Linked DNA regions of Homo sapiens. The protein of the gene in region 3 interacts with the protein of the main gene of each other region in a pairwise test. Each region holds a gene or a part of one and is shown on either strand. Other genes may lie near its edges. The genes, in order: ACOT11, REL, HDAC7 and GNG12.

What was found.
Region 1: the proteins of HDAC7 (region 3) and ACOT11 interact in binary tests that used the Homo sapiens proteins (3 or more experiments, as listed by UniProt).
Region 2: the proteins of HDAC7 (region 3) and REL interact in binary tests that used the Homo sapiens proteins (3 or more experiments, as listed by UniProt).
Region 4: the proteins of HDAC7 (region 3) and GNG12 interact in binary tests that used the Homo sapiens proteins (3 or more experiments, as listed by UniProt).

What each region holds. Positions count from the first base shown.
Region 1 is NC_000001.11:54,600,228-54,607,227, reverse strand, and holds part of ACOT11 (acyl-coenzyme A thioesterase 11), read right to left. Parts: intron 5,960-7,000; coding exon 5,815-5,959; intron 4,560-5,814; coding exon 4,504-4,559; intron 3,358-4,503; coding exon 3,291-3,357; intron 2,883-3,290; coding exon 2,799-2,882; intron 2,153-2,798; coding exon 2,019-2,152; intron 95-2,018; coding exon 1-94. UniProt on the Homo sapiens protein: Has an acyl-CoA thioesterase activity with a preference for the long chain fatty acyl-CoA thioesters hexadecanoyl-CoA/palmitoyl-CoA and tetradecanoyl-CoA/myristoyl-CoA which are the main substrates in the mitochondrial beta-oxidation pathway.
Region 2 is NC_000002.12:60,919,574-60,926,573, reverse strand, and holds part of REL (proto-oncogene c-Rel), read right to left. Parts: intron 6,534-7,000; coding exon 6,465-6,533; intron 6,192-6,464; coding exon of another isoform or gene 6,096-6,191; intron 6,001-6,095; coding exon 5,932-6,000; intron 4,812-5,931; coding exon 4,039-4,811; 3' UTR 1-4,038. UniProt on the Homo sapiens protein: Proto-oncogene that may play a role in differentiation and lymphopoiesis.
Region 3 is NC_000012.12:47,788,899-47,795,969, forward strand, and holds part of HDAC7 (histone deacetylase 7), read right to left. Parts: coding exon 7,008-7,071; intron 6,870-7,007; coding exon 6,689-6,869; intron 6,483-6,688; coding exon 6,286-6,482; intron 6,036-6,285; coding exon 5,862-6,035; intron 4,691-5,861; coding exon 4,471-4,690; intron 3,772-4,470; coding exon of another isoform or gene 3,761-3,771; exon of another isoform or gene 3,107-3,760; coding exon 2,973-3,106; intron 2,809-2,972; coding exon 2,688-2,808; intron 2,411-2,687; coding exon 2,361-2,410; intron 1,023-2,360; coding exon 915-1,022; intron 681-914; coding exon 625-680; intron 451-624; coding exon 363-450; intron 1-362. UniProt on the Homo sapiens protein: Responsible for the deacetylation of lysine residues on the N-terminal part of the core histones (H2A, H2B, H3 and H4).
Region 4 is NC_000001.11:67,700,964-67,704,527, reverse strand, and holds the end of GNG12 (guanine nucleotide-binding protein G(I)/G(S)/G(O) subunit gamma-12), read left to right. Parts: 3' UTR 1-3,053; downstream 3,054-3,564. UniProt on the Homo sapiens protein: Guanine nucleotide-binding proteins (G proteins) are involved as a modulator or transducer in various transmembrane signaling systems.

The DNA.
Region 1 (7,000 bases), on a different chromosome or scaffold from region 3:
GAAGTCCTGGGGCTTTGTGTGACCTCCGAGGGCAGGGCTGGTGACGTGGTAGATGGCGTCGTCCTCGTCTACCTGCTGCACTAGCTCCACGCTCCTGTGGGGAGGCCGGGATCTCAGTGCCCCAGGAAGCTTCCAGCTCCCATGCAAGCAGCGGGTCTGCCCGGGCCCTGCCACACTGCAGTGCCTGAGCAGCTTCTGTGATGGGATGTCACCCCCTGTACTGCTCAGCAAGGGCCAGCAGGAAGGCAGCAAAGCCCAGCCAAGATGGACACACATGTGCGTGTGCACACACAGGCACATGTAGACATGCATGCAAGTAAATGAACACATACACACAGACATGGGAACAAAGATGTGCACATACATGCACACATGTGGTCATATGTGCACAGGCACATGGACAGACATCAGTGTACACAGAGACCCACGTGTGTCTATACATGTCTGCGCAGGTGCAGACACCACAAGGATGTGTGATGATTTAGCAGTTGTTCTTAATATTTACTGAGCGCCCACTGAGTGCCAGGTGCTGTTCTAAATGCTTTACATGTGTCACTTAATCTCCATAACAGCCCCATGCTGTAGACGCTTTTAGTATTCCTATCTCATAGATGAGGAAGATAACCTGCCCACGGCCACAGAGCTAATAAGGAAGCAGGGCTGGGGTGTGTCCAGGCTATCAGGTGGCAGAGATGTATCCCCAGGCCCAGGCACCTGACACATACATGCATGGGCATACACAGGTTCATACCAACACGTGCACCCACACAAGGACACCCACACAGAGGCAGGCATGGCCATGTCCAGACCCACCTCCTCCTCCCCACTCCCCTGCCTGCACTCAGCAGTAGGCAGGGTATGGGGAAGAAACTAGGGGCTCTCTTTCCCCTCAGGCCACTCCCCCACAAATCCCATCAAGTATCAAGATTTGGTCTGGCCTTCAAGGCCCACCCCAGCCTCCCTCCAAGAAGCCCACCTACCACATGCACAACCGCCCTCCCCCTACACGACATCCACCACCAAATCACCTCTCTGCCTTCTGGAAGGGGACAACCAGCAGGCCTGAGTCAGCTGGGCCAGGGCTTTTTAAGGCAACATGGCCCTTTTTGCAAAGACACCTTCAGCAGGAAGCCCATGTATAAAGAGCTACAAGCCTGCTCTGGAGAAAATAGATGGGGTGGGAAGGGGAAAGCCAGTTTGTCAAAATACAATTCACCAAGTGACCAGCGGACTGAATTTCCAAACACACAGAACCTCCTTACGGAAATTCTCCAGAATGTAGGCTCCTCATAACAAGCAATTATCAAAGAACCCCCTCGAGCCCCGGTGATGGCAGAACAGAAAATGACTTTAAGGGGACTTGAAAAACACAAATTTTGCTATTTTCCTAAGAACATATTTATCTTCCTTGACTAAATTCGAGAAGAAGATAGTCATGTGAACAATCAATAAATTTGGAGGAACAAATGTATGTAAAGGAATAACATATTTCTATTCATAATCATTCATTATATTCAAAAATAATATATTTGTGAGGAAAATCAGCAAACTTGGTAAGTTCAACAAACTGGCCATGCTATGTCCCGATCACCCTTCATCCTTCCAACTCCACCCCCAGCAGTTCCGGAAGCCCCTTTGGGAACACAGAACTCCACAGCACATGGTTTGAAAATCAGTATCTCTGAGTGTGAATCCATGACCCGCCATCCAAGCATCCATTTTAAGAAGAGAGAAACTGAGGCCAGAAAGGAAGTGACTTTGACTTATCCAATGTCACACAGCTGGTTGGGACAGAAGCAGGACTTCAACTCAAGCCTCCAGCTCTAATTCCGTGCTCAGTCTCTTCCCTAAGGGCTCAAAATACCCATGACCCTGAACCCCCACCCAGCATGGAACTCCAACCCACCCCCAGCCCCAGCAGGGCAGAGCATCATGGAGGATGACCCGCAGAAGGAGACACTCTCTCCCTCATCAGGCCGGAGAAGGGACACTGCCCTGCCCTCACCCTGGCCCCTCACCGGTAGTGCTTGTCCCACTCTGGCCTCTGACGCAGGTCCGAGAGCAGCAGGAAGGCCTGGGCTGCATCCACATGCACCACCATCTCCATGTGGAAGGAGAGGAACTTGTCATCCTCCAGAGTGTACAGGCGGACCTGCATGGGATAGAGGGCAGCCTCATTTGCTGGGTGGTGGAGTGGACTGATGGGGATGCTGGAGGCTGAGACTGGAAGCTCAGGGCTACAGCTGACTTGCTGTGTGAATGTGAACACGCAGCTCAACCTCTCTGAGTCTCAGCTGCATCCCCACGAATTATGAATTCAGCACAAATGGACAGGAAGGTGGCTTAAGACAACAGTGACTAAGGCAACATGTGGTGGTTCCTGTCAGCCAGGTGCCCATCCAAGCCCCAGTGGCACAGGCAGGAAGTGGCTTGTCTAGGGGAACAGGCAGCTGGCAGAGCTTAGGTCTCCTGTAAGCGCGTGCCTGCTGGCTGCCCCGATCCCTGCAGTGATCACTGCAGAAGAACAGAGAGGGAGGAAGTGCCTGGTCAGACAGCAGCAGACCTGAGTGGTTGAGAACAGGAAGGGGGGCAGGCAGGAGAGAAGAATCTAGGGGTTCTCGACTCCAGGCCCTGCAGGGGTGGGTACGTTTCCATAACTGGACTGGTTTCTTGATCTCACCCAATTCTTTGAAGAGATCTTTTTTTGACATAAGTGGTGTGGGAGAGTTCTTGTTGCTTGCCATTAGCCACCTCTGGCTCAGATGAGAAAGGAAAATTGGGTGGGTGGGGTCAGCTACCTGACTGATCTCCGAGGACAGCACCCAGTTGTCCTTGGCCACAAGCATCTTCAAGGAGGAGACGTTATTGTAGCTCAGGTACACCTGAAAGAGTACACAGGTGCTACCACTACCCCACCCCCTTCCTTCAGGGCCCCTGAGCCAAGGCCAAGGGTGTGCCAGAGAGGAACCTGGGCCAGGAATGGGTTGGGCGGTGGGTGGGTGGTGCGGCAGGTGCTGTGGAAAGAGTCCTGGGCGTTGAGAAGGGAGGTCCAGGCTTGGGCTTGGCTAGACCCACTGTGTGACCCTAGACAAGCTACTCTGCCTCTCAGGGTCTCCGCTTCCACCTACCAAACAGGGACGCAGGCCAGCTCTTTGCTAATGGTAGCAATCATGAGGCGTGTCATTCATATCCTGCTCTCCCCGGCCTTCCTCCAAACCCGTTCTGACAAGCAGGGAAGGGTGGGGGCCCGGTGGGTCTGAAGACTGTCCTCTCGGAGCAGAGAGCCTTACCTGGTTGCTAGGGTCCCAGGGGACGGAGAGGGGCACCTCTGTCTGCTTACAGGACACGATGTACTTCCTGGGAAGGAGAGAAGATGACAACCTTGGTCCCCTGGAAGTTCAGCACTTTCCACAGACTCTACTGCAGGCCTACTCTGTGCTAGGCCCTGTGCTGAGCCCGGCAGAATGGGAGACTCCTGTCTGGGTAGGGAGGCTGGATGGTCACACAGGACACAGCAGCTGAGGGCACACCAGCTCGGCCCCTACACCAGGGAAAGCTCAGAGGTGGGAGCGAGCCAGCAAGGAAGGGTATGGCGTCTAAGGCTCGATTCCCACACCCCATACCCCTGCTGAGTGACCTCACCCTGGTGCTGCTGTGTCCTCATCTGTGAAATGGGATCAGCAGTCACCCCTGCCTCATGGGGACATCACAATAACAGTGCTTGGCACACGGTAAATGCTCAGTAAATGCCATAGATGCACACTTTCTTACTAACAACAGCTTGTGATCCCTGCTGTGCTTACAGCCTCTAAAGTCCATAAATGCTTTCACAGCAGAGTCAGACACACCTGGCTTCATTTTTATTTATTTATTTATTTTGAGACAGAGTCTTGCTCTGTTGCCCAGGCTGGAGTGCAATGGCACAATCTCGGCTTGCTACAACCTGCAACTCCCGGTTCAAGCGATTCTCTTGCCTCAGCCTCAGCCTCCTGACTATAGGTGCACTGGGACTACAGGCGAGAGCCACCACGCCCAGCTAATTTTTGTATTTTTAGTAGAGACGGGGTTTTGCCATGTTGGCCAGGCTAGTCTCAAACTCCTGAACTCAGGGGATCTGCCTGCCTCGGCCTCCCAAAGTGGCTTTACCTCTTGAACAACTGCATCTCCTCTCTGAACGTTTCTTCATCTGCCAAATGGGCATCAGAATCAATGGCAAGAACACAGGATTTAAAATCGGCTGGACTCAGCCAGCTTCAAATTCTGACTCTGCTGATGATATTTGTGTGTCCCTGGGCAAGCCACCTAACCCCTCTGTCCCCAGCGTCCTCGTGTGTACAACAGGCCAGAAGACCGCTGTGTAATAAGACCAAAACGAGAGGATGTAAAGGGCCCGGCCCAGGGCCCAACGCACAGGCAGCTCTGAAGAAAAGCGAGTGCCCTGGGGTCAGCGGAGCGTGAACAGCCCCGAATCCACATTCTGCCCACCACTCAGCCCCTACTCACCTGTCCAGGCGGATCTTCTTTCTGGCACTGGCCTCTCGGTACCGCCGCTCACCATCCTGGGGAGGAAGTCGGGATAGGCAACCAGCTACCCCCACCCTCCGTCCTGCCCCCTCTCCATCCCCCAGGGCCCAAGGAGTTCCTGCAGCCCTAACGTGGAGTTCAGGTGTCGCTGGGGCAGCTGGAATCAAAACATCCTGGCCAGCAAAGTGGGAAACTAAGCTGTAGCCCCAGCTCCCCTCAAACTCTCTGAGTGACCTGGGAACACCACCTCCCCTGGCCAGACCTCAGTTTCCTCCTCTGTAAAATGGGGATCCTTACAGGCCACTCACAATGGTAATGAGAGTCCACATTTACTGAGCACTCACTACACACCAGCCACTCTTCTCAAGGGCTTTCCATGTGGAATTGCACCAAATCCTTACAACAACCCTCTGAGGCTGGGGCTGGTGCTGTATCCATTCTACAGAGGAGGAACCTGAGACAAGGAAGGGTGAGGGCTTGCCAAGGCCACAGGGGTAAGGGCCGAGGCCAGGATCAGCACCCCAATGGCCTGCCTCAAGCCCACCCTCTTTACCGCCACATCTAACGTCCTCCAGCCCCAAGTACAAGGAAAATGCCTGGGAAGCGGCTATGGCTGTGACCCCCAGCTCCCAGTCCCGAGGCTCCACCCAACTCCACAGCCCACGCTACCCTCTGGAAGGCCAGCAGGAAGGCCAGGGGACCTCCCCCAAGGGAGGGAGCGGCCTCTCCAAGGCCTGGCCCACAGGAGGCACAGGGAGCATTTTGTAAGAGAGGACCTTGCACCAGGCTCCTGACTGTCTTCCCGTGCCCCTTGCGTTGCTTTCACCATCCTCCTGACCGCTCCCAGGGCGCAGCCAGGCATGGAGTCAGTACTGCATCTATCGCCCCACAGTCCTGTGAGGTAGGGACTGCAGATACACCCATTTTACAAATGGAGACTGAAAGCTCGAGGGGGCATCACTTGAATGTAGTAGAGGCGAGGTTCCAACCCACATCTGACTCCAAAGCCAGTACTCTTCCAACCCTGCAGGCTCATGACAGCCCATTAACCCCCAACTCCGAGCCAGACCCACACATACTCCGAGTTCTGTCAGGCAGAACAAGCCCGCCCTGCACAAGGGGCATCCCAGGGCTCACAGCCAGGACACTCAGCTGGCTGTGCCCCAGCACGGGGGTAGGGTGGGCCCCTCACGCCTCTAGGTCTGTAGGGGGCTGGCAGTCTCCACCATGCCAGGGCAGAGAGGGAGGGGAGGGGAGCTGCTGGTGGGGCAGGGCGCTGGTCCCACTTACGCCGGGCTGGGGCCGAATCCAGGGCAGCAACTGGGGCTGGTCATCTGCGTCCAGGACCACAAAGGTCATAAAGGCACTGTTGATGTGGCGCCGGTGGGTCTCAGCCTCCTGGCGATAGGCCTCCACGCACACGCCCACCTCCATGCTGAGGGGAGGGAGTGTGGCTTCCAACCTGGACAGACCTTCCCAAGGGCCATGCCTCCTCCCCAACACACACACTCACACACACACATGCACACATGCGCCCACACACATGCATGCACACACACACACGTATGCACACACATACACACACATGTATGCACACACATACACACACATGTATGCACACACACACTCACATACACTCCTGCAGTTCTTCCAGCAACGTGGATCAGAGTCCCAGTGACAGGACACCTGGGACCGCTCCCTCCACCATTGTTTACAGAGCACCTCTTGTGTGTGTCCGGCCCTGTGAGGATGCGAGAGTGAATAAACCTGTCCAGTCTATGCCTCATGGGCTAACAGTCAGGGGAGGAGGCAACCAACAAGAAAGCAAAGGTATAAATATGCCATCAAAAACTGCAAAGGGATGTAAGGACATAAACCAGGAGGTGGAGGTGGACGGCCTAATTAGAAAATGTTCATTATGTGCATATTTACAAGTGCTGTGGCAGCCTTGCTTCAAACAGCTCAGTTGCTGCTATTCATGTATCTTACTGTCTTTATTTCTTTATTCCTTTATTTATTTTTTGAGACAGTCTCATTCTGTCGCCCAGGCTGGAGTACAGTGGTACAATCTTGGCTCACTGCAACCTCCGCCTCTTGGATTCAAGGGATTCTCGTGCCTCAGCCTCCTGAGTAGCTGGGATTACAGGTGTGTGCACCATGCCTGGCTCATTTTTTGTTTATTTAATAGAGACGGGGTTTCGCCATGTTGGCCAGGATAGTCTTGAACTCCGAGCCGTAAGTGATCTTCCTGCCTCGGCCTCCCAAAGTGCTGGGATTACAGGCGTGAGCCACTGCGCTCAGCCACTTACCATCCTTATTAATTATAAAATAGCAGCCACCACCATTCCCCCTCACTTTGGAAGTTCTATGATTGCAGAGTGTGGACATTATATAGATGGGGAAACCAAGGCCTAGAACTGGGCAATGATTTTTCCAAGGATTCCAGATTCCTGGAATCTGGACTAAAATCCAGGCT
Region 2 (7,000 bases), on a different chromosome or scaffold from region 3:
CCAACTGAGGGGAGGGGTCAAGACTCATGGGAAATAAATCTCAGGGAGGAATCTTGACTACCACAGAAAACCCAGAGGAGTATGCAAAGAGGGAAGTATAGGAGGTTATACATAGGTCAAGCAGTGTGAGGACTGAAAAAAAGACACTAGATTTGACAAGGCGGGCAGTCTCCGCTCATCTTTCCCAGAATATCCTAAGAAAATTGTAGGAGCTAAAGACAGAGATGGCTGGGCTAAGGAATAACTGGGAAGGGAGAAAATGGAGGCTGGAGGCATTTCAGAAGTCAGGATGCAAATGCATCCAAGTGGTAGGAAAGGTTTTATTTGGTCTTTCCTTTTAGGCTAATGAAGACATTTACCATGTTTATACAAAGAAAGGAATCACTAAGTGGTGATGTAAGGATAAAGTAAACACAGCCTGGCAGAGAAAGGAGGAGGGATCCAGTGCACAAGTAGAGTTCAGAAAAAGTGCCTCAGATACTAAAAGCAGGTGTTAAAAGAGCAGGTGAAAGCATGAATATATGTAGAGACAGAGGAGAAACGTTACCAAATTCATTTTAAATTAAAGTCTATACAGGGTCAAAAAATAGCACCTGAAAAATGAAAAATCCATTGGGAATATTCTACACACAGAGGTAGCAGAACCTTAATTCTGCTTACACCGCAAAACTAGCCAACACTTATTTAGTTTTAAAAAAATATTCTAAACACAGATGTAGCAGAACCTTAATTCGGCTTATACTTACTTATACTAAGTAGCCAACGCTTAATTAGTTTAAAGAAAAAAACCCATGCAGCTATTCTAACAGTCAGTGTTTAAACTGATTGGTGCTAATTAATCCAAAACTATGAGATTCTGTATTAAAAAAAAAAAAAATCTCCCCACCTATCATCCATCATCATCTAGAGACATCCTGGGTTCACATTTTGAACAGAAAAGAAATTGTGCCTTCAGGTTTTTCTTTCTCCCTGGTAAGTTCTATTTATGTGCTTATGATTTTAAAAATTTATTTTAATTTATATTTTTAAGTAAAAAAATTACTTTCTACCTTTTTTATTGAATTCTATGATTCTTGTGAGATTTCATAATGGCTGCTCATGAAAAATTTATAATACAGAAATATTTCCTTTTGAAATAATAATTTCTGAGGAATATTAATGGTACTCAGGGGTCTTTCTTTTTTTTTCTTCCTGAACCATCCTGAGCCCAAGTCTCACTTTGCTGTCTTCCCTATTTCCCAGTATCATTTAACTGAGAATTTTTGTTTTTATGGCATTCACACATTTTTCTATTTGACCGAAACGACTAGTTTATGTAAAGTTATGGTTTGGTTAGACATCGTGTAAGTAAAATGACAGACTGTTTCTTGCTAGGAAGATATTCAACATTTAGGGCAGGTTCTAGTTGTAAAACAAACTAGGTAAAGTTAATTACTTAGCATAATGATAATTCCATCATAATTAAGATTACTGCCCAACTTTAATCTGTAATAATAAAATATAATGATCTAATTAACCCTTACAATGTCTTTGGGAAATAAAAGGGCAAAATAAATAATTATATATCAAATGAAAACTCCAAAATATAACTACGTTTTGAAGCAAAGTGAAAGGTTTCTAAATGCCAGAATTACCAAAAGTCACGAAACACAAACAGCAAATAAAGTGTAATGTTACAGCTATAACAACTCACATAAAGTATGCAGAAACAACTAGGAAACACTGAGAATTTTAAATCTGATTAAGGAGCTAGTAGAGATTACCCAGCATTCAGCTCACCATTTGAAACCAGCCAAATGAATATGTGACAAGTCTCTTTTAAAAATCTTGCACTTTGAAAAGGAAATGTGTTATAAGTGTTACTCAATCTGGAAGTTGCAATGAGCTTGACAATGTCAAAACATGGATTTAGAGATTCTCAATGAACCTCTAATGTTTTACCTTCAATAAAATCTCTTTTCATAAAAGGAAAAAAAAGATTACCCAAATTCTACCATCATTTTGCCACTGGGATTATTTTCCTTTCAAACAATTTGGATGACCATTATTATTCCTGGACTTGAATGTACACGATTCTCATAAACCCAATGTCACACTAAGTAAAACTGCAAAAATCATATACGTCTTATAATTAAAGTTATTATTTCTTTCAAAAACCAAAGTTCTATTAGTAATACTTTTAATGTTCAATAAACATTTACTGAGTGTTTAATATAAGGTAGGCATTTTTCTACAAATTGGAGATTCAACAATAAAGCACAAAAATTTCTGTCCTTAGAAAGTTTATATTTCGGTATGGGAAAACAAACAGTAAATGAATAAATACTTAGTAAAGTCAGATCGTGGTGAGTGCTATGGACATACATAAAGCAGGGGGGAAAGGGAATGCTGATGTATATATTCAAGGACGACCTGCTCAGGTAACAGTGGAGTGACACCTGAAGGATGTAAGAGTGAACTATGCATTTTTCTGGGAGAACAACATTCAAGGCAGAGGGAATACCAAGTACAGACTGTCCAAGGCAAGTGCATACTTGATGCTTTGAGGAGCACTGAGGCCAAGGTGCCTGGAGCTGCATGAGGAGGTGGGATATGGTGGTACCTGAGGTAGGACAGGGAGTCTAGGCCTGCAACTTTTAAGGACTTTGACTGCTCTGAGTGAGATGAGAAGCCAATGAATGGTTTTGAGCAGATGAATGGTATGAGTTGACTTGTTTTAAAAATAATCATTCTGGCTACTTTATGGGGAACAGACTGTAGGAATGCAAGGATATAAGAAGAATTTTTGTAGATGACAGCTTCAATCCAGGGAAGAGATGATGGTGGCTTGGAATAGGGCGTTAATAGTAGAGGTCAAAAGAGGTGGTCAGCTTTAGATATATTGTGAAGGTAGGGTCTACCAGATTTGCTAATGGATTGGATATGGGTGCTAAAAGAAGAATCAAGGATGACTTCAGGGTTTTTGGCCTGAGCAACCAGAAGTATGGCATTGCCATTTACTGAGTTGGAGAAGACTGAAGGAGAAGCAAGTTTGGGAGGGAAGACCAAGAATTCAGTTTTGGATATGCTGAGTGTGAGCTTTAATTAGATTTCTAGATAGAGATGTCAAATAGGCAGTTTTATGAGATCACAGGGAGTGAGGACATCTAAGAAAGGCGAATGGTCCAAGGAAACTTCTTCCCCTTAAAAAATGAGTGTACAGCTAAAATCATAAGCAACTTTAAAGGCATAGATTGAAATAGTATAAAATGTAGAAAACCTCCCATACCTTGAAAGCTCACTTCAACTGCCTTCTGCCCAACTTAACATTTTAAAGACATTTTGATATACATACAAATCTAAGCTCCAAGAAGCCTAAGAAAACCCCTTAGGGGTTACCTTGGCCCATGGGCCTCAAAAATAAAAAATTAAGTTTTTCAATGGCATAGCCATTACAAGTTTTATCTTAAATTTGCTTGAAATTTAAGAATACATTAAAACATTATAAAAAGAAATATAAAAAAGTGTGTTTTTTTTGTTTTTTTTTTTTTGAGACAGAGTCTCACTCTGTCACCCAGGCTGGAGTGCGGTGGTGTGATCTCAGCTCACTGCAACCTCTGCTTCCTGGGTTCAAACAATTATTGTGCCTCAGCCTCCCAAGTAGCTGACAGTACAGGCACGTACCACCATGCTCAGCTAATTTTTGTATTTTTAGTAGAGACGGGGTTTCACCATGTTGGCCAGGCTGGTCTCGAATTCCTGGTCTCAAGTGATCCACCCGCCTTGGCCTCCCAAAGTGCTAGGATTACAGGTGTGAGCCCCTGCGCCTGGCCTCTGAGTTGTCTTTTTATGACAGCTTCCAATTTTGTATTCGCTATGTCCAAAGTTGTATGCTTCTTCCCTGAAAAAAGTTTTTTATATTCTCAAATACAGTATTATATTCTCAGTCAGTATTATATATACAGTATAAATATAGTATTATATCCCCAGTTAGACAAATACAAAATGCTGCATCTATATAGGTGGTATCAAGATTTAAAAGGATTTAAATCTTGCAAGTTATACTTGAAAAAATTCATATGGAAAGGAGTCACTCAATTGCTCATTTTGCATACTGCCAATACCTGAATACTGACTATCTTGAACAAAACCATGACTGTTTGGATTAGTACTGTTTGATGGTCCCGACTCATTTATCATGCTGTTATCTGCACAACTGAAGTCAGATCCCTCAAATGCATCTGATTGTGAAACAAAAACAGTAGTATTGGAATTGGCGCCTGCTGACATACTGGAAGAGGACATCTGATGGAGCTGTCTCAAGTCTCTTGGGTCTAACACTGAATTACATGAGGGGTTTTCAAGATTCATGCTCAGAAGTCTTGGATTATCAGTCTCTCCCATGCTGTCACTGCTGGTTGTCATCATATTCACAGAACAATTAGACAGCATGTTGGGATCAGAAATACCATATAAATCTGCTGATGGCATGGATGACGCTTCCATTCCGACTATGTCATCGGCATTGTTGTAAATGCAAGCATTAGAAGCATTTAAATCATTCCCAACAGGTATTCTCAGGAATGGTGGGATACCTTGCGAATTAGAAGGAAGTGTCCTTGTTGAAAAACTACTCAGTGGGTTTGTATTGCCTGAGCGTGGGGTGGGGTGGGCCACTGATGACCAGCTTGAAGAAGGCAGAGGTGCCATTGAGGCATGATGTGACAATCCACTTGAGATGGGCCCAGGTGAGGGATAGTAGGATTCTGCTTGACTTGAAACCCCTGTAGGCATTTCTCTCACAACTGCATCATGAGAAAACAAGTTTGGTTCTGTGGGAGGAAAAATTTATTTTACGAAATTAAAATGAACAAAATTATAAAAAGCATTTCTAAATTAAAATTGCATAAGCACACAAATATATATAAAGAAAAATGTCAAGGAAACCAATGTAACATTTCAAATAAAAAAATGTAAAAAGCACTAAAATTATTACACGAATCCAAAATGAAATTCTGTAACGTATATACCATTTTACAAATACAGGTAAAATGATTTTGGCAAGTTACTTTGGCATATGTAATTTCACTTCAATTAAATATGAAAATCTAGTTTCTGAGGCTCTATAAAGGTATTTTTGAAAACTAAAAGATAAATATTAGAATTACAATTAATGGGATTCCAAATAGCCAAAATCATCTCTTACTCTTCACTTTTAGGAGAAAATGGAAGGATGGAGACAACACTCATTAGGGATAAGAAAATACACATAACTTTTAAGATATATTACAACAGAACCCTAAGAGACTATAAAATTCACAGTCAGAAAAAAATTACAGAAAAAATTAATTCTGTATCTATTTACATATTATACAAATGCTTTACAAACTAAACCAGGAAAAAGCAATGATTTAAGAATGTACGTGGGGGAAAAAAGACTTCTTCTAATTAGCCCTCGGTTGAATTACCTAAACTAGGGATTGGCAATTTTTTTTTCTGTAAAAAGTCAGATTGTAAATATTTTAGGCTTTGTGAGCTATATACAGCCTCTGTTGGAACTATTCAACCCTGTTGCCATAGTGTTAAAAAAAAAAAGCAGTTTAGAGATAATATTTAATCAAATATTCATGGCCGTGTTCCAGTAAAATGTTATTTATAAAAACAGGTAACTAACCAAATCAGTAACATTTTTTCATAACGCAATGTAATTAATAAAATTGCTACCATATGAACAACATGTAATTTCTTGAACAATAAATCCCAAAAACATAATCAGTTTCTAACACAACCTTCAGAAGCCATGCTTAATTCATTCTATACTGAAAGCATGAAAAATCTGGAGAGAAAATTTTCAAAGAAGCAGTTATTCATTCCTAAAAATAGAATTCCAATATATTGTGCAAAGTACTGGTCTTTCTGATCACAAGAAATATGCTATAGGAAATAAAATACCTTTTTTGAAGTATCTTCCTTCTCCAATTGAACCGAGGAGACCAGGTCTTGGTCTCTCAGGAAAATTAACTGTTAGGATAAAGTTTTTCCATTATTAAATGTCATTTGAAAAATAACATTATCAGTTAAAATCTGAAAAACTGGCCGGGCGTGGTGGCTCCCACCTGTAATCCCAGCACTTTGGGAGGCCAAGGTGGGTGGATCACCTGATGTCAGGAGTTCAAGACCATCCTGGTCAACATGGCGAAACCCTGTTTCTACTAAAAATACAAAAATTAGCCGGGTGTGGTGGCACATGCCTGTAATCTCAGCTACCCGGGAGGCTGAGGCAGGAGAATTGTTGAACCTGGGGGGCAGAGGTTGCAGTGAGTTGAGATTGCCCTACTGCACTCCAGCCTGGGTGACAGAGAGAGATGCTATCTCAAAAAACAAACAAACAACAAAACAAAACAAAAATAATAAAATTTGAAAAACTGAATAAAGTAAATAAAACAAAACCTATTTAAATATGAATCGATCCAAACTATTCTTACCGTGATCCTGGCACAGTTTCTGGAAAAGCAGAGTTGTCTTTTGTTTCTTTGCTTTATTGCCGTAAGTATCTGATTAGAAAGAAACCAGGAAAGCAGATAAAAAATTATAGGATTGTATCCTCTCCTTTAATAAACAAATATTTTATTCACATATAGAAAATGTTTTCAATAAATATGTATGTAAGTTGGATTTAATAAGTATTATAGAATATGTCCCAAATCAGTAGTATCAGTAGAAAAGGATATTTTTCTCTTAGTAAAAAATTGTTTAAAGTAATCTCAGCACTTTGGGAGGCTGAGGCAGGTGGATCACTTGAGCGCAGGAGTTTGAGGCCAACCTAAGCAACATGACAAAACCCTGTCTCCATAAAAAAACAGAAAAATTGGCCAGGCGCAGTGGCTCATACCTGCAATCCCAGCACTTTGGGAGGCTGAGGTGGGTGAATCACCTGAGGTCAGGAGTTTGAGACCAGCCTGGCCAACATGGTGAAACCCCATCTCTACTAAAAATACAAAATGAGTCGGGTGTGGTGGCG
Region 3 (7,071 bases):
GATGTGATTAGTGGTGTACTGATGTTATCTGCTATTATTCTTATCATCACTACCTGTACAGGAAATGCAGAAATTACTAGATCTGCCAAAAGAAGCCAATAGAGGTCAAAAGACAACACTCAAATGACAGCTCCTACTCGTTGCAGGGGTTTGCGATGGCTGAATGCGTTCCCACACGCCATCCCCTCTAGGCCTCCCAACTGTGATGTGGGTGTTATCTTCACCCAAATTTTACACAAGGGGAAACTGAGGCTCAGAGAGGCTACTGCAGAACTAAGACATGAAGCCGCATCTCTAACATCAGGCTCAGGGCTTTTCCCCCAGGGCTCTCGAATTGGAGGGTGCTACGGACAGGCACCTACCCAGTCTACAATGAGGATCTTGCTGGCCTTGCTCTGCTGTTGCAGCTGCCGGCAGGCGATGGCCACTGAGTTGAAGAAGCAGAAGCCCCTGGAAGGAGAGACAGGTCCTGCCAGCCCATTCTCTCCACATGCCCTCACCTCCCCAGGCCCCTGGGTTGGCCCAGCCTGAGAAAGCTCAGGGAAGAAGAGAGAATGTCCCTGAAGGAAGTTCCTGGGGGCTTGCCCCCCACCTCATCCCACCCAGGTCTTCCCTTAGCCTTACATGGCTGTTGAATGATCTGCATGGTGTCCTGGGGGCCGCACCACAGCGAAACCATTCTGGAAAAAGAAAGAATGCTTGTCAATCAACAGACAGCTCTGACCCACAGCTGCATGAACGTACCCCAAGAGTTCCAATCTCAACCTGGTTCCCAGAGCCCTCAATTTCCCCTCCAAAACCCTGTAGCAATCTCTAAGAGGAATGCGATGCCTGGGGTTCTGGGCCTGGATTCCCCACTACCCCACTCTGCTTCCTCCTTTGTGGTGTGTCCACCTTCAACCCAAACCTCCTACCTTTAGCTCACGAGAAGCCACTTTGAAGGCGAGGTCAGTGACACTGCCAGCGGCCCAGCGGGCTGCATTGGAGGAATGAAGCTCATTCCAGATGGTGTCAGTGTCCACCTGCGGGAGCCAGAGTCAGGGCCCGCATCATCCAAGGCTTCACACAGGAGCCAGGGCCCAAGGGGGTGGTCCCCACCCCACGGCCAGGACCCCAGGGGCAGGGAGCTGGGCAGACAGTGCTGCCTCCCCAGTGCCCCACCGCCCAAAGGCAAGGCCTCCTGTGTCCCCCAATCCCAGCATGACTTTTTCCCAGCTTAAGTCCCAGCACCAGCCCATTATCTGGCCAGCACTCTGCTGGCAGCATCACGCCTGCCTCCCCGGTCAGGGGAGGGGGCATGGCGTTACCTGGGCGGGACTTGGGGTTTGGGCCGGGAGGGGGTTTTAAGCCCCAGCTGACTCTGCTCAGGCCCTGCGGGACGGTCGGAGCTGGAGGGGCCGTCTGCACCACTGTCTTCCACTCAGGGCCCCTAGCCCAGGCTGGGAGGCCCCCCAAACCCAGTCCCTGGGCCTCAAGGCTAGGGAGGGGCCGGGGGGCATGATGGGGAGATGGGGAGGGCGAGGCAGACCAAGAGAGGCGAGGAAGGCAGAGAGAGTCGCAAGAGGCTGGAGAAAGAGAGAGAGAGAGAAAGACAGAGAGGGAGAGGAGGGAGGAGAAAACAGAAGCAACAACAGTTGGAAAAACCAGAAAGTGGCAAGAAATGGGAAGTTGTGAATAGGGCACTGACTGGCTCCCAAAGTCCCCCACCAGCTACAGCTCCCACTTTCCCTCCGGAATGAGGCCTCCATCCCCTGCCTCTACACACCTTGCTTGAGAAACTACTGCAGGGATAGTGTTAGGCGAGGAGAGCTGAGCCGGAGGGAGCGGGAAGCTCCCTTCACAAAGGGGTGAGGACTTAGGAAGCAAAGCTCGCGAGCGGAGTTTGGGGCTATGTCCCGGAGTGGGGAGTGCTGGGATCGCCAAGGACACCGGAAGCACCACCGTGATGTCACACCAGGCAGCCCAAGGTCTGGGGACCAGGCTGAGGTACCCCAACTTGCCACTTAAGAGCAGACAGAGCAGCCTGGCGGCCAATGCCCAGTCATGGGGGTCTTTGAAGGGAGAGATGATCCTAAGCCCCAGCCTTGGCCCTGCTCCTGAAACCTCACTCAACATCTACCAGACACCTTCTAGGGGAAGGCTTAGGCTGGACTCCGCATTCGGGGGAGACTGTGGGTCCGAGACACGCCTGTCCAAAAGGAGCTTCCTGCTGCAGGGGGCACCTCAGGAAGTCCCTGGCTCACCCTGTCTGGCAGAACCACAACAAGCAGAGGTTCTGCAGGGGCTGGGCCTGGGAGAACCACAGGGAGGAGAGCTGAGAGCCCTGGCAACGCCCCCCTGAGACCCCTGGGCACACTTACCCCAACCCCACCACAGGGCAGCATCACAAACATCCGCTGTGCCAGGAGCCCTGCGGGGAGAGGCCCAGCCCACGTCAGCGTGAATACTCTCAGCCTTTGGCCCAACAGGGAGCAGGGAGCCCAGAGAGCAGGGCCGGGTGAGTATTGGGGGAGAGAAATATGGAAGGGAGAGGTGGAGGTGGGCTGAGGAGGGGCTTGGCAGCAAGCTGGAGTAGGGACGTCCAGGGTGCAGGAGGAGGCTGGCTGGGCGGGCAGAGCCGAGACAGGAGTGCATGGGAGCTGGGTGAGGTAAGCTGGCATGGGGAGACAGGGCCACTAGGCCATTACCTGCCAGCTTCCCGTTGTCCAGTTTGAGGCGGCTGAGCGGGTTGGTGCCGTAGAGGAGCACGTGCCGCTCAGAGTGGACCGACTGCAGCTCTTCCAGGGAGGCCTTCCGGCCTCGGAGACACTGAAAAGGGGACCACAGAGCTCTGAGCTCATGCTCGCCCCTTCCCTCCCATCACCACCACCCCATGTGCCCCTCATCTCTCATGGGCCCCAGGGCCCCCCACCCCTCCCCTCCCATGACTCCTCCCTCCACCCATTCCTCGGGCCCCACCCGCGCCTCCTCACCTCACACTGGCTCCGGAGCCCCCGCTCCTGCAGCCGGGACCAGATGCTCTGGATGCGGCCGGCGTGCTCCGGGTGCCTGCTGTTGTCACCGCAGGAGCACTGGTGCTTCAGCATGACCGAGTCATAGATCAGCCCTGCAGGAGCAAGGGTCAGAGCGGGGACCCAGGGAGTCCTCACGCCCCATGGCCTTGGCTGCAGAGAACACGCCAGCACCGCCACAGCAGGCACCCACATGGAGCCGGGCGGGTACACACCCCTCACACCCACACAGGCCTGCATTTCATCCTGCCCCTACCCCAGCCCCAGCCCCTCACACCTGTCCACACACGCCCAGACACTTCCCCAGGTGGCAGCAGCCAACACATCAACACAGCTCCAGCCAACATGGCTGCCACAGAGCCACGGCCTTCCCACATGCGGACACGACTGCTGGGTGGCCCAGGACTCGAGGGCCCAGCACCAGGCCCTCAAGTGCTCAGAGCAAAGCATGAGGCCTAACGTACAGCATCTCACACACGTGTCATGAACCCAGAGAGGCTACCAAGGGGCAGCAGGAGGGAAAAGAATTCCTAGGAAACCCCCAAACCGGGAGCTAAGAAGCCCACGATGACACTGGACCATGTGATAGACAAATCCAGCTTTGGAGAAGTGACTATTTCAGTCTGACCCGTGGGAAGTCTTCAGAGGAGGGTCCTGCTCATTGCGGGTGGGAGGGTCAATTTCTGTGCGTCTAGGACACCAACGACTCTCAAAATGCTCACACCATGTGACCCAGGAATGCTACTTCTTTAGAGTGAACCTTGGGAAATAATCCCAAGCATGAGGAAAGATTTATGCATAAGGAAATTCAAATAAGCTATAATCTAAATGTCTAACTGATAAGGGATCCCTCAGTAAAAATGAAATACATTAATGAAATACTATGAGACTCTCAGTTTTAAAGACTAATTATGCCAAGAAGGATTCATAATATGTTAACTAAGTAAAGCAGGATACAAAACGTAGTTCATGTGTTCATGGCATCTGTACATGTACATATGGCCAGAACAAAGCCTGGACTGAAATACAGCAGAATTTCAGAGGGTTTACTTCTGGGTGGTGGGATACTGGTTGGTGATTTTTCTTTTCTTCTTAGGTTTTTCTGTACTCTTCAAAATGTCTAAAATACTTCTGAGCTCTTTTTACAAGCAGAGCAACAGTAATAAATATCATTTTTTAAAAGGGCTGAGTGCATTGGCAGGAGACTGGAATTCTTATCCTGGCTTGACTACCACTTGCTATTTGACCACAGGCTTGTCACCTTAGATTTCGTGAGCCTTGGTCCTCATCGGCCAAATGCAATAACCAGCTGTTCCATGTGCTCCATGGGTACTACGTGGGCCTAACAAGGCTAAGCACTCTGTGGCCTCTAAAAATGTCCCAAGTGACACCAAGACACCCACATGGACTCGTGCAGCCGAGCCCCTCCCTCCACCCGCCACCCTCCTCCCGGTCTCACCTGTGGTGAAGGGCAGGGTCCTGGCAGGGGTCTCTGAGCTGGAGAGGACTCGGGCCTGGCTGGCAGGCTCTGGGGCTGACAGTGAGGCAGGTGCGGCTGGGGAAGACTGAGCCCGGGACAGAGGCCGGTGCCCACCCTGGGCCAGAGGAAGCAGCACAGTGTCCCCGGTGCTGCCCCGGGGGAGCCGCCCAGCCAGTCGCTGCTGTTCCCAGAGCAACACCTAGGGGAAAGATGGGGCCTTGGTCTCCAGTGTTTCAGGGTCCTGCTCCCTCTACTTCTGCCTGAGGTCTTGGGAACTGCCAAGCAGGCCCCTTTCCTAGAGAGATTCCAGGATAAACCTAGACCTGCTGTCCAGTGGGGCTCTGGCCTTTGACTCTCTAAGCCCCCTGTCCCCTGCAGCCCCCTGACAGGTTTGCACCCCAGACTGACCACCCATTCCACCAGCTCCCCGGGCCCTTGGGGCTCCAAAGCCAGGAACCAGGGGAGGGGCGCTGGATCTTGTGCTGACCAGGATGTCCTCCTGTCCTGGACTATGTAACTGTTCAAGAACATGTGTGTGGCCTGTCATCATGTGTTATGGAGTAAATTATGTTCCCCACCCTCAAATTTATATGTTGAAGTCCCAACCCCCAGTACCTCTAAACATGACCTTATTCAGAGATAGGGTCTTTACAAACAGAAGTAATCAAATTAAAATGAGGTCGTTAGGGTGGGCCTTAACCCAGTATGACTATTGTCCTTATAGGAAGAGGAAATCTGAACAGGCATTCACAGAGGGAAACCACATGAAGCCACAGGAAGAAGATGACCATCCACAAGCCAAGGAGAGAGACCGGGAACAGCCCCTGCCCTCACACTCACAGCCCCCAGAAGGAACCAACTCCACCAACACCTCGATTTTGACTTCCAGCCTCCAGAACTGTGAGATGGTAAATGCCTGCTGTTTAAGGCGCCCAGCCTGTATCCCAACAGCTCCGGCAAGCTAATGCACTGGGTCTTGATTCCCACAGTGAGAGCATTCTGCTGGACACGCTGGAGCCTGGCTCCATCCCACCTCTGGCCCTAGCCACCTTTCTGGATAGAGGGGAGACATACCAGGGCAGGACTATGTGTGGCTCCAGGAAAGGACAGACTCCTTCCTGGAAAAGGGACATGCTTCACCTGAGACTGGCAAGCTGTTGTGTGTATGTGTGTGTATGGGTGTGTGAGTGTGCATGTGTGTGTGTGCCTACACCTTAGTGTGGATCCAGCACCCAGGATCTTATAGGGCAACCATGGGTCCTAGAGCTGCCTGTTGCACTGATGTCGTATCTCCCTCCCTTCCCCATCTTATGCCAGGCCCCAGAGTCTTCTGAGGACACTTTCTGAGGGGCAGGTGGGGACTGCCATACCTGAGGGTGCTGCTGGAGAGGAGCGGGGCCTCTGGCCTCAGGCTGCCCATGGCCCAGCTCCCTGTGCTCCAGGCCATCGTCCACCACCTGGCCCGGTCCCCCGCCATCTGTCTCCAGGTCTTCAGCCGAGGGTATCTGCCGCAGCCGGGGCTTCTCACTCGGCTTGGCTGACCTCTGGGGAGGGGAGAACCTGGCTGAGAAGCCATGGTGGAGCGAGGGGCATGGGGTGGGAGGTGGTGGGCTGGGCCAGGCAGCCAGTCATCTTGCTAGGACTCCAGCTGCCATGCAGCTCTGGGCCCCAAGAAGCCACATCCCCCTCTTTTGCCCTCCAGTTCCCTGCCCTTTCTAAGTACCCCTCTTCTTTTGGCCCCTAAGTCCCCAGTTAAACACTCCCTCAATACCTCCACTGCCCAATTCCTCTCACCTTGATCACCTGGACGTGAGTTTTGAGCTGCTCCAGGCGGGGCTGCATGGGGCCCGGCGGTGGGGGAGCGGTGGCACTGGGGGGCAGGGGCTCTGAGCGAGTCCGGCTCAGTGGCCAGTGGAGGCCTGACCCAGAGAGCCGCTCGGTGGTCATTAAGGACTGGGCAAAGTGGAAGGGCAAGGGCCCAAGCCCGGGCACTGGAAAGAATCGGGGGGTGGAATAAGGAGGGAACCACAGGGAGCAATGGAAGGAAGCGAGGGTATAGGGTGGGGGGCCAGGGTGCAGCAGGGCAATGCGCAGGACAGGGGGACAGAGATGGGGAGGAAGGATGGGTCCATCCCAAGCTTGGCTCTTAGCAGGGTGCAGGGACCCAGCCCCTTCCCTGAAGAAGCAGCAGACTCACCAGTCAGCAGCGGGGCATGAGAGCCTGAGGGGTCCAGGAGGAGAATGGGCTGCAGGCGAGAGGGCAAGGTGCCCCCAGCCTCGGGCTCCAAGCCATGGGGCAGGAAGAGGGGAGTGTGGGGGCTCCCCAGGATTGGCCCCCGAGGGCCCAGAGTCGGATGGGTCCTGCGGTCACTGTCAGCCTGGGGGAGAGGCGGGAGAAGTCACGGGGAAGAAGATTCCAGCAGAGAACAATGAAGATGATGGGGTGAGGCAGCAAGAAAAGGGAGTGAAAGAAGCTGGGGGGGCTTGGAGTGGGGGTGGGCACCCCAGCCACTCACCCTGGCAGGGGCGGGCAGCCCCAGAGTGATTGCGGGCAGCAAGGACACTGTCGGCAAGGCGAAC
Region 4 (3,564 bases), on a different chromosome or scaffold from region 3:
AACATGAGCCCAGCTGAGAGAGGAGCAGGAATGTGTGAAAAACAGCTGCTCTCCTTGTCCCAGCTTTGTGATTGAGCCCTCTGTCTTGCTCTCTCTGCCTTCCCTGTGTCTTTCTTCTCTTACCAGAGCATCTGTTTGCAGAGGTAACATTACCTTCCCCAGCCACAGGTATGTGGAATACGGTGAGGAAAAAAAAAATTAAAAAAAAAATGCAAGCTGTCAGGATGCTTAAGCTCTTTTCAGACATCTGCAGTTTCATCCCTACCTTGTTCACATACCATCCAAGAGGCACATAGGCTACCCAAGAGAGCCTTGGATTCAGTGGTACACTCCTTGGGCCCAAGGGCTTTAGCAGCTGGATATGGGGTTCCTTGATTTTCCTCTGGGCCCAAATATAGCCCTCACACTCTTGGAATTTCCAGGTATGGGGGTAGCCCCAAAAGGAGGAATCTCCTATGGCCAATAAGGTATCTTGACTTTATCAAAGTAGAAGAGAGGGTCACTTCGGAGTCAAATCATACACTAGGCCTTTGATGCTTTAATTCTTCTTCAGTTCATTAAAAGTAACTACTAAGGAAAGGTTAAAAACTTCCCCTCAAAAAGGAATCAACCCCAGGAAGTAATTATTTACAACGATTTTCCCAAATTTTGTACAATCTGTCCTGGAAAGCAAACCCCTTTTAAAATCTAATGTCTGGGCTTTGAGTATTAGCTCATTTAGGGTGGACAAATGCATTACTGTTTTCAAACTGCTCACATTTATTCAGTATTTCTCCAAGTTGCTATCTACTCAGCCTTATGAATGCCCCTCGCTTTTCTAAGGCCATGTGAAAATCACGGCACTGCCCTTAGCCTTGTGTCATCTGCTTTTTCGTTCTGCGATATGCCCAGTTCCCAAATCAATTATAGGTACCTGTTTAGGAGAGAGGAAGATTTTACCTCTCAAAGGGTGAGATTTGAAATTTACACTAAAAAGACAACTTTACATTTAATGCTTCACTTAATGAGACATTCTTTTTTTTATAAGTCTATTTTTCTACTCAGTTTCAGAACACTAATCTGATTTTCACTCTGATTTTTAACGTTTCTTTAAATATTTATAATGTAGCTTCTTTCAAAATATTTTCATGAAAAATTACTTTTATTATACCATTATGTGCATGTTATTGGTAGCAGGCATAGTTTATTATTTAGTACTGAAACATGCTCTTTTACCTAACAGTAAACAAGTATGTTTTGATATATATCTGTTAATATGCTTATAGTGGTAAGAAATGGACTTGAGGTCCCAGGAGATTTCATTTTATTCACCCTGGTCAGATACAATAAAGGCTATGAGTATAAATACATAACTTCCTAACCAGGTGTAGGGCATGTTCATGAATATCAAATCTTTTGATGCTGGACCCAAGAGAGGAAAAGTTGTAGCTAAATGTTGATTTACTTATAACTAGACGTCTATGTGAGAAAATATATGTATACATATATATGATATGCAGAAGTCACTTTTTTTATCAGGCTTTATTCTCCTTACAAAGCCACAGTTTAACTGTCTGCAACAGTTGGTTTATGTTAATGATAGACAAATACCCAGTGTTTGTTACTTTTTCCAACTACCACTGTAATGATAATCTTTCTCACGTATATACATGCAACTTCTTGGCTTCATTTCCATGAAGCTGTTTCAATATATTCAGTATACTTTGTCCTTAATGCTGCTTCTGTTAACAGTGATCTCTTTCTTTTTTTCATTCTTATATCTTCATTAGTTCATCATAAATCTGTCCAGTTGAGGCCTCAGGACCACGGCATGATTTCATGACTCCGAAGTATTTTACAGAAACATTTTTTAAATAAGGGAAATATTTTATATACCAGATGGTTCACAAGTGATGGCTCATAGCTAGTTTTTTTTTTTCTTCTAAAAAATGTCAGGTTTTTAAAATCATTTACCTTATTAAAATGAAAAGTGCCATACTTAACTTTTAAAGGAAAGACCTGACTTGCTTTTTCTCTATTTAGACTGTTTTTGTACTTTACTAATCTTTAAACTATCAGGAAAAAAACCAAAACTTTATACCAATGATTTAGTAATTTTGAGGCATAGGGTAGCTTACGTAGTGGAGGATGTGCCAAATATTCTCTTCAAATGCCACCTTCTCAATTTATAACTAAAATAGTGTTATCTGACTAATTCCTCTGAATTTTGATGTAAGATCTATATAGGCCCCCAAAATGATCGTAGTACATGCCAGTCATTTCTCAGTGAAATAAATACAATACCAGAGTACATTATGGGTTTTATTGCTTTCTTTTATGGTAGACCTGTTAATGGGGAAAAAATACATCAAATCAAATAGAATCTTATATCTGTATGTTAAAATAGAGCACTTACCTGAAGTCAGTGGCCTGGATCATAGCCCTGGATCATTTCCCAGTCTGTCCTGTGCTGTGTGACCTTGGACAAGGCGCTTCATCTCTCTGGGCCTCTATTTCTCCATTTGTAAAACAAGTGGCTGCAGTAGATGATGGCTGAGAGCCCTTCCTGTTCCCAGATGCCTTGGTCCAAAGACCCCACCCCTCTGCTGGTCCTGCCAACGTGTTGGTGCTATAAGCTGCTTCAGATATAAAATTGGTTTATCTATAATGTTTGTTCATTTAATAGCTTCTAAAAGGCCTTTTTGTTATACAGTGCTTTTTTTCTAGTTTTATGGACTTGGTTACTGTAATAATGTCTTGTTTTTAGCCATGTAACTACAAACAGATATTCTCTTGATGTCTTAGTAAATTTGCATTTGATATATCATTGATGAGATTTTGTTGTTATGTAATATTCTTTGGCTACGCATCTGTCCAGCATCTTATTAACCATAATACTGTGATCATTATTTGGAAATATGTCCTATGGAAAGAATAAAAGCATGTACTTCACAGCTAGCATGTTCACAGATTTGAAAGAAGTTTCATTAAAAGCACCATTGCTTTCTGTACTGCGTCAGTGCCTCATTGTATCATCCTACTTGTGTTTTGCTCAATAAATGAATAAAAGACCATTTCTCTTCCCCTTTCCCTTCCTTCACTCAGTTAACATTTTCTGAGCACCTCCTGAGAGCAAGCTGCTGAGAGTCAGGCTCCCATGACACCCAAATGAATAAGACTTACACCAGCCCATGTCACAGTCTGAGCAAGGAGGATGGGAATGACAGATATGTAAACTAATCATCGTAGTATCATGTGGCAAGTGCTATAACTCAGGTGAACACAGAGTGCTGTGAGAGCCCAGAGGAAAGAGGGACTAGCTCCACATCAACAAAGACCTCTAAAAAGGCTTCCAAGGGTGGTGATGTTTGGGCTGAGTGAGAGAAGAACAGTATGCGTTGGAATGAGGTCCTGGGAGGAGATGAGAGGAGGAGAAAAGAGGACTGGAAGCCAGTGTGCAGAAGACCCCCGATCCCGCCCTCCTATCCTGCTTGCCTATCCTGAAACCAACAGGGGAGCTAGAGAGGCTGCTGAGGAGTGACGTAATGACTCTGACCTGTGGAGGGCTGTTTCCCATCCTGAGAC